Homo sapiens: one gene and its partner. The protein of the gene in region 1 interacts with the protein of each later gene in a pairwise test. Each region holds a gene or a part of one and is shown in the gene's direction. Other genes may lie near its edges.

The links.
Region 2: the proteins of ZNF490 (region 1) and FSD2 interact in binary tests that used the Homo sapiens proteins (3 or more experiments, as listed by UniProt).

The regions. Positions count from the first base shown.
Region 1 is NC_000019.10:12,609,145-12,612,895, reverse strand, and holds the start of ZNF490 (zinc finger protein 490), read left to right. Parts: upstream 1-2,082; 5' UTR 2,083-2,215; coding exon 2,216-2,332; intron 2,333-3,693; coding exon 3,694-3,738; intron 3,739-3,751. Other genes in the region: ZNF791 (zinc finger protein 791), read right to left, coding at 1,814-1,816. UniProt on the Homo sapiens protein: May be involved in transcriptional regulation.
Region 2 is NC_000015.10:82,804,426-82,808,176, reverse strand, and holds the start of FSD2 (fibronectin type III and SPRY domain-containing protein 2), read left to right. Parts: upstream 1-2,107; 5' UTR 2,108-2,211; intron 2,212-3,751.

The DNA.
Region 1 (3,751 bases):
GGTTGCAGTAAGCCAAAATTGTGCCACTGCACTCCAGCCTGGGCAAAAGAGCAAGACTTGGTCTTTAAAAAAAAAAAAAAAAAAAAAAATCCAGCAGAATTACTTAAACACAGTGTTTACGTATAAAGGAAGCAAAAGGCCTGGCGTGGTGGCTCATGCCTGTAATCCCAGCATTTTGGGAGGCCAAGGCGGGAGGATCATGAGGTCAGGAGATCAGGAGATTGAGACCATCCTGGGAAACATAGTGAAACACTCTCTACTAAAAAAAAAAAAAAAAAATACAAAAATTAGCTGGGCGTGGTAGCTTGTGCCTGTAATCCCAGCTACTTGGGAGGTTGAGGCAGGAGAATCGCTTGAACCCGAGAGGCAGAGGTTGCAGTGAGCTGAGATCGTGTCACTGCACTCCAGCCTGGCGAGAAAGCTAGACTCCGTCTCAAAAAAAAAAGTAAATAAATAATAAATAAATAAATAAATAAATAAATAAAGGAAGGAAGCAAGAAAATTTTAAGCCATTTAACAAGAAAACCCACTATTGCTTTCAGAAAATGAGAATGTTGGGCCGGTAATAGTAGCTCATGCCTGGAATCCTAGCACTTTGGGATGCTGAGGGTGGAGGATCGCTTGAGCCCAGGAGTTCAAGATCAGCCTGAGCAACACAGCCAGACCCCATCTGTTAAAAAAAAAAAAAAGAAAATAATAATGTCAGTTAATTATTTCCATGGCAATAAATAGTTTACAAAAGTATTACTTCTATCTGAATGCTTCTAGATGTTGCAAGTTTAAGTCCTGGAATACCATCTGAAACATCAAACTAAAAGAACAGACCTGAGAAACATATTCCATGTGCTCAGGGAAAGAACAAAGAATTTTTAACAAATGTAATATTGGGATGTTTTTTGTTTTCTGAGATTCATTTCTTTTTTGCCCTTTGGAAATATTTTGTACTGTCTCTCAAGTTCTTCTGATAACATATATTTTATATTTATTGGAAAAATGACATTCGAGTGAATAAATCTTTTCAAGGTCATAAACCCAAGGCGGGACAGTGCCAATCTGAAACTGTGCTGAAAAGATAGATTACCCAGGAAAGTTTACAAAAAGGAACCTCAACGCAAAGGAGTTCCCATAGGATGTCTGTGCCCTGGAAAGGTACCAGGATGAGGGCCACAGCATTTTATGCAGATTAGTTCCAAGTGAATAATTTTTCTGATTTTTCTCTGATGTAAAATATCCACAAACAAGAAATAAATCGTTTAAAAGAGGCATCTATTGGAAAAAAGATTATTAAAATACTGCGTGTGTTTGAAATGCACCACACAGGACAAAGAGTTGGTGACGATGTTTTCCACTGGCGAGCGGAAGTAGGCGTTTGGGAATTCGGGGAGGGATCCGGAAATCTAGGGATTAATGGCCCGCCGTGGGAGGAGCTAGGCTGGGGGGACAGGGTAGTGGATTTGAGACTCTGCTTCCAACATCTTTGGAAGACTCAGGGGGAAACAGCCTTTGGGAAGAAAGAAGGGACTGGGAACCCCAGACTGTAGCTCCTCCCACACAAACCAAACACACAAGGCGGGATTCTCCCCAGGACCCTCCCGTGGTCCCTGCACGATCTGGGAAAGACGCGGGGCTGCGGGCGCGGAGTTGTCCAGAGAGGGCTCCGGGGCTGGGACCGCAGTCGCCGCGCAGGGACGGGACAGGACGCTTGGAGTTCCAGCTGCCAGCCCAGCCCCACACTGCGGCCGGAGGTGACCGTGGGGAGGCCCGGGTCCCGCGATCACGGCCGGTTCCAACTAGTCCGGCCCTGCACACTCACCATTTTCCGGCCTCGCGGGTGTCCCGGTGTTGTCCCTAAGGTTCACGGAGCCAGCGCAGGGTACAGCGCATCCGATGCAGGGGTACAGCAACCTGACGCGTCAAGGGGCCAGGAGACCCCAAGCTAAGCACAACCCGATCGCACAGTGACGTAGCACGCATTTGCGCAGCGTAGCCGTACCCTCCTTTCCGGCGCCGCCCCTGATTGGACAATTATACAGCCCCGCCCCTTTTTGTCCGAATGACAGCTAGGCAGCAGGTCTAGTAGCTAGGCAGATCTCGCTTCCGCCGGTGGGACGGAACTGGTGCCCTCCGTGGACAATTGTGTTGAAGCAGAAATTGTTCCGGATCTCGGGTCGGACACGGAAGTCTTCCTGCAGTGTTTCTGGATGCGGGGACAGGGATGCGCAGGAATTCCAGTCTCAGTTTCCAGATGGAGCGACCCCTCGAGGAGCAAGTCCAGAGCAAGTGGTCGTCTAGTCAAGGCCGCACAGGAACAGGAGGGTCTGATGTCCTCCAGGTACCAGGGGCTTGGCATAATGTTGTAAGGCCTCTCGTGGAATAGTGACCCTTGTTTATAAACAGACGGTTACCCCATCATGTGTAATAAAAAGTGTGGTTGCATTTTAATCTTTGACCATAACAGCGTTGAGGCGTCCACCTTTCTTTTCCCCACCTCCACACATTTGGCACTTTAGAAAAGGAACCCCAAGGCAGGGCTTGGTGGCGCACACCCGTAGTCCCAGCTACTGCGTGGTGGGGGCGGTGGGGGAGGTCGGGGGGTGGGTGGGCTGAGGCGGGTGGATCGCTTGACTCCAGGAGTTTGAGTTCAGTCTGGGCAACATGGCCAGAACCCATCCCAAGAAAAAAAAAAAAAGGAAAGAAAGAAAAAACAATCCGTAGGACACCCGAGCACTTGGCTCGGGTGGTAAATTGCAACCCTAACCTGGGCACAGGGACTCTTCAGACCAATCACGATCTATGAGACGTGCTCAGTAAACTGCGTTTTACTCTGGAAGGAAATGGTTTGTTTTCGTTGTTTTTTTGTTTGTTTGTTTTTAGTTTAAGCATGTTTTTATTGCTTTTCATTTTTATTTTTATTTTTGTAGATTTATGGTTACAAATGCACTTGTGTTACGTGGATATATTTCATAGTGGCGAAGTCTGGCTTTTAGTGCACCCATCACCCAAAGAGTGTATATTGTACCCAATAGGTAATATTTCATCCCTCATCCCCCCTCTCTGTCCAACCTATTGGCATCTCCAGTGTCTATTATTCCATTCTGTATGTCCATGTTTACCCATTGTTTAGCTCCCACTTATATGTAAGAAGATGCAGTTTTTGACTTTCTGTTTTTGCATCATCGCACTTAGGATAATGGCCTCCAGTTCCATCCGTGTTGCTGTAAAGTGGAAGGAAATTTATCTCAAATAAGTTTTCTAAAGTGTCCCTACAGAACTTGGAAAGACCAAGAGCCCAAAACCAGCCTGGGCAACATAGCGAGACCCCATTTCTCAAAAAATTTTTAAAAATTAGCTGGGTATGGTGTTCACCTGTAGTCCTAGCTCCTTCGGAGGCTGAGGCAGAAGGATCTCAAGGCTAAGAGTTTGAGGTTACAGTGAGCCAAGATTGTGCCACTGCATTCCAGCCTGGGAGAGAGAGAGACTGTCTCTAAATTTTTTTTTTAAAGTAGAAACATATTTCATTTTTCCCATTATAGAGGAGACAGTGTAATCTTGAAAACTCCCATGATCCACCCTTCTGGTAGCTCTGTGTGTACAGGTAGATGCAGGGGGAACAATGCTTCCAAGGCTGTCAAAGGTCATGTTTAGTTCTAAATTGCTGAAACTCACAAAATGCATCCTCTTGTTTCTAATTAGATGCAGAACAGTGAACACCATGGACAAAGCATCAAGACTCAAACTGTAAGTGAGATCG
Region 2 (3,751 bases), on another chromosome or scaffold:
TCAATCTTTCTAATTATAAAATTGTCGTGGGTGGCTGGGTGCAGTGACTAACACCTGTAATCCCAGCACTTTTGGAGGCCGAGGTGGGCGGATCAGTTGAAGTCAGGAGTTCGAGACCAGCCTGGCCAAAATGGCCAAACCCCGTCTCTACTAAAAATACCAAAAAAAAAAAAAAAAAGAGAGAGAAAAAGAAAAGTTAGCCGGGCGTGGTGGTGCATGCCCTATAATCCCAACTACTCAGGAGGCTGAGGCATCAGAATTGCTTGAATCCAGGAGGCAGAGGTTACAGTGAGCCGAGATTGCACCACAGCATTCCAGCCTGGGCGAAACAGTGAGACTCTGCCTCAAAAAAAAAAGAAAAGAAAAAATAAAATTATCCTCTCTCTATATATTAATATATGTCTTAGTCCATTCAGGCTGCTATAACAGAATACCATTGAGTGGGTGGCTTGTAAACAACAAACATTTATTTCTCATGGTTCTGGAGGCTGGAAAGTCCAAGATTAAAGCACCAGCAGATTCAGTGTCTGGTAAGGAAGGGCTGCTTCTTGGTTCGTAGATACCTGTATTCTTACTGCATCTTCACATGGAAGAGCTCTCTGGGACCCCCAATGTAATGGCACTAATTTTATTCATGAGGGCTTGCCTTCATGACCTAATCACCTCCCAAAGGCCACATTTCCAAATACCATCACATTGGGGATTTGGTTTCAACATGGGAATTTTAGGGGAATATAAACTGTCTATAGCATATGTATATATATGTATGATGGTTAATTTTAATGTGTCAACTTGATTGGGTCACCAGGTGTTTAGTCAGACATTATTCTGGGTGTGTGTGTGTGATGGTGTTTCTGGATGAGATTAACCTTTGAGTTAGTAGACTGAGTAAAACTGGTTGCCCTCCCTCATGTGAGTGGGCCTCATCCAATCGATTGAAGGTCTGAATAGAACAAAAGCTTGAATAAGAGGGAATTCTTCCTGCCTAACTGCCTTCAAGTGGGAATATGGGTTTTTTTCCTGCCTTCCAACTCAAATGGAAACATTGGCTCTCCAGGGTCTTGAGCCTGCTGGCCTTTGGACTAGAACCACACCATTGGCTCTCCTGGATCTTCCGCTTACTAACTGCAGATCTTGGGACTTTTTGGTCTTCATAATTACATGAGTCAATTCCTTATGATAAATCTGTTTCCATATATGTATACATTCTATTGGTTCTGTTTCTCTGGACAACTCTGACTATTACACTGTGTGTGTGTGTGTGTGTGTGTGCGTGCGTGCATGTGAGAGAGAGAGAGGAGAGAGAGATTATACTGTTATGCTGGTCTGTGGGCTCAGCATCAAAGTAGGAATTTTGCAACACACCCACAGTTAACACTCACTTTTTTCCTCAACACCTAGACTCTTTCAACTTCTTAACAGAGTCAGAATTTTGGAAGAAAAGAACATTAACACTAAATTGTCATTTTATAAATTATTAAACTAAAGCTTAGAGAAATAGTCAATCATAGTCCATAAGGAATGTATTGGCTGGATAGTCCCATTTCTATGCCATACCATGGCAAGTAAAAAAAAAAAATAATAATGTTTGCTTAAGGCTTATATGGGAAGTGTGTCCTGTGCTTTGATTAGAAAAGTGCCCCCAAAATGTTTTTTAACCTTGTATGGTTCATGAGCACCTCTGAGAATCTATTGAAACCTGTGAGTTCTCTTCCCGGAAGTGATTCTATAAGGACACAGACATAATTTTGCATATAATTTTAGAAACTCATTCACTTAAAAAAAAAAAAAAGGAATCTTCTTCCTGGTCTTGCCGTGACAGTCCCCAGCCCTCTCCACATGACCAGCCATCTGAGACCCATGGTAGAGCCACAAGTCTAAAACCCCTCACAGCACAGAAAGTAACTCAGAGCACGGCATGTGACCTCTCCTGGTGACACTTGAGTAGTAAGAAGTGGCAACTCAGCCACAGCAGGTCTATATTTGGACCTTCACTCATGGCAGGCCTGTTGCTATTTGTGGCTGCAGCCAGCTCATGTTACCATCCAGCTTTGGTGCCCCACTTGCAGAACTCTGGTGTAAAATAGGCAGGGGTAGCCTGTGGGGCATGCAGAGGTCACTAGGAAGGAAAGCCTGCTGAACACAGATTCAATTTTCTAGCAGAACTCCAGGTCCTCTGAGTTAAAGGAAGCATTTATGGACGCTTAGCAGGCAAGTTTTGGGGTAGTCATATTCTTCCAATGCAAATTGTATTATTAGAAACTCAATGCTGCAATATTAATGCAATATCTTTCCTGTAGGTGGGAAGAGATATCATGGTAAATTGCAGATGTTTAAATTACAATAAATAGTGTAAATGTTTTCTGTGCCTTCTTAAAGCAAGAATTCGCATTAACTGAACATGATGTTGGGACAGGATGTGAGAGGCTCTGATGAAGGCAGACAGGGGCTGGTGATTCTTATAATGTGTCTTTAGGATATCTGTAGTGCTGGGACCCATTAGTTAGAACCATTTGGTAGAACAGTTTGGAAATATAGATGTTGAATATCATCTGGCTATACTATTGTGTTGTAAATACATTTTATTTAATCTGTGTGTACATGCTGAAAAATAATAACTTCATGCATTGATTCAAATACTAAAAAACAGCATCGTAATTATTTTTCACTTGTTATGCATACAGCCTCCTCCTATAGAAAGTTTTCAGGTTCGGGCAGTGTCTGCAAAGCTGATTTGAATCATTTCATATCACTGTAACACTTTAAGGCAAGCTTTCTTTCACTGCTGTGGCTCAGGAATTGCCAAGGGCTGCATGGAAGAGCTAAAATTATAGGCAAAGTTATGTTCCTGCCCTTATGGAATCACTTCTGGGAAGAGAATTCACAGGTTTCAGTAGATTCAGTAGATATGCCCATGATCCATAAAAGGTTAATAAACAAGCCAAGTGAGGTGGCAGATTGCATGAGCCCAGGAGTTCAAGACCAGTCTGGGCAACATAGCAAGAACCTGTCTCTAAAAAAAAAAAAAAAAAAAAATTATTGGGGGACTTTTCTAAGTAATGCACAGGGATACACCTCCCATATAAGCCTTAGACAAACATCTTTTTTATTTTTTTTAACTGCTTCCCTTGGCATAGAGGAAAGGGTATCCAGCAAAGACATTCATAATGGACTATGACTAATTGCTTTACTTCTCTAAGCTTTAGTTTCACCATTTATAAAATGACAGTTTATTGTCAACTTTCCTTTCTCCCCAAATCCTGATTTTGTTAAGAAAGAGTCTAGGTGTTGAGGGGAAAAGTGACTGTTAACTGTAGGGTGTGTTGCAAAATTCCTACTTTGACACTGAGCCAGTTTGTGTTGAGACCACTTTGTGTTGTGTGTTCGAAGGGCAAGTGCCAGCTTGAAAGCATGTGTTCTTATCTGTATTTGCACTAAGTGTTTTCCAGTCTTCTGACAGTTCAACTTGGTGTTTCACATTCCAGCTTCTGGTTGAAATAATTTCTCATGATGATTTATTGGTCATACAGAATCCTGGCTATTTCCCTTTGGGTAGCACATGGGAATGTAAGCATTATTTTAGTGAACTGCTCCTCTGTCTGTAGATGGTGTGATTTAATGGAAACCTGGGTTTGAATCCAAGCTCTTCACCTGACTGGTTGTGTGTCAGGTGAAAAGCTTGGATTCAAGCACAGGGCTAAATACAGAGTAGCCCAGATACATTTTTGTAAAAGAAAATTGGCTATAAGCA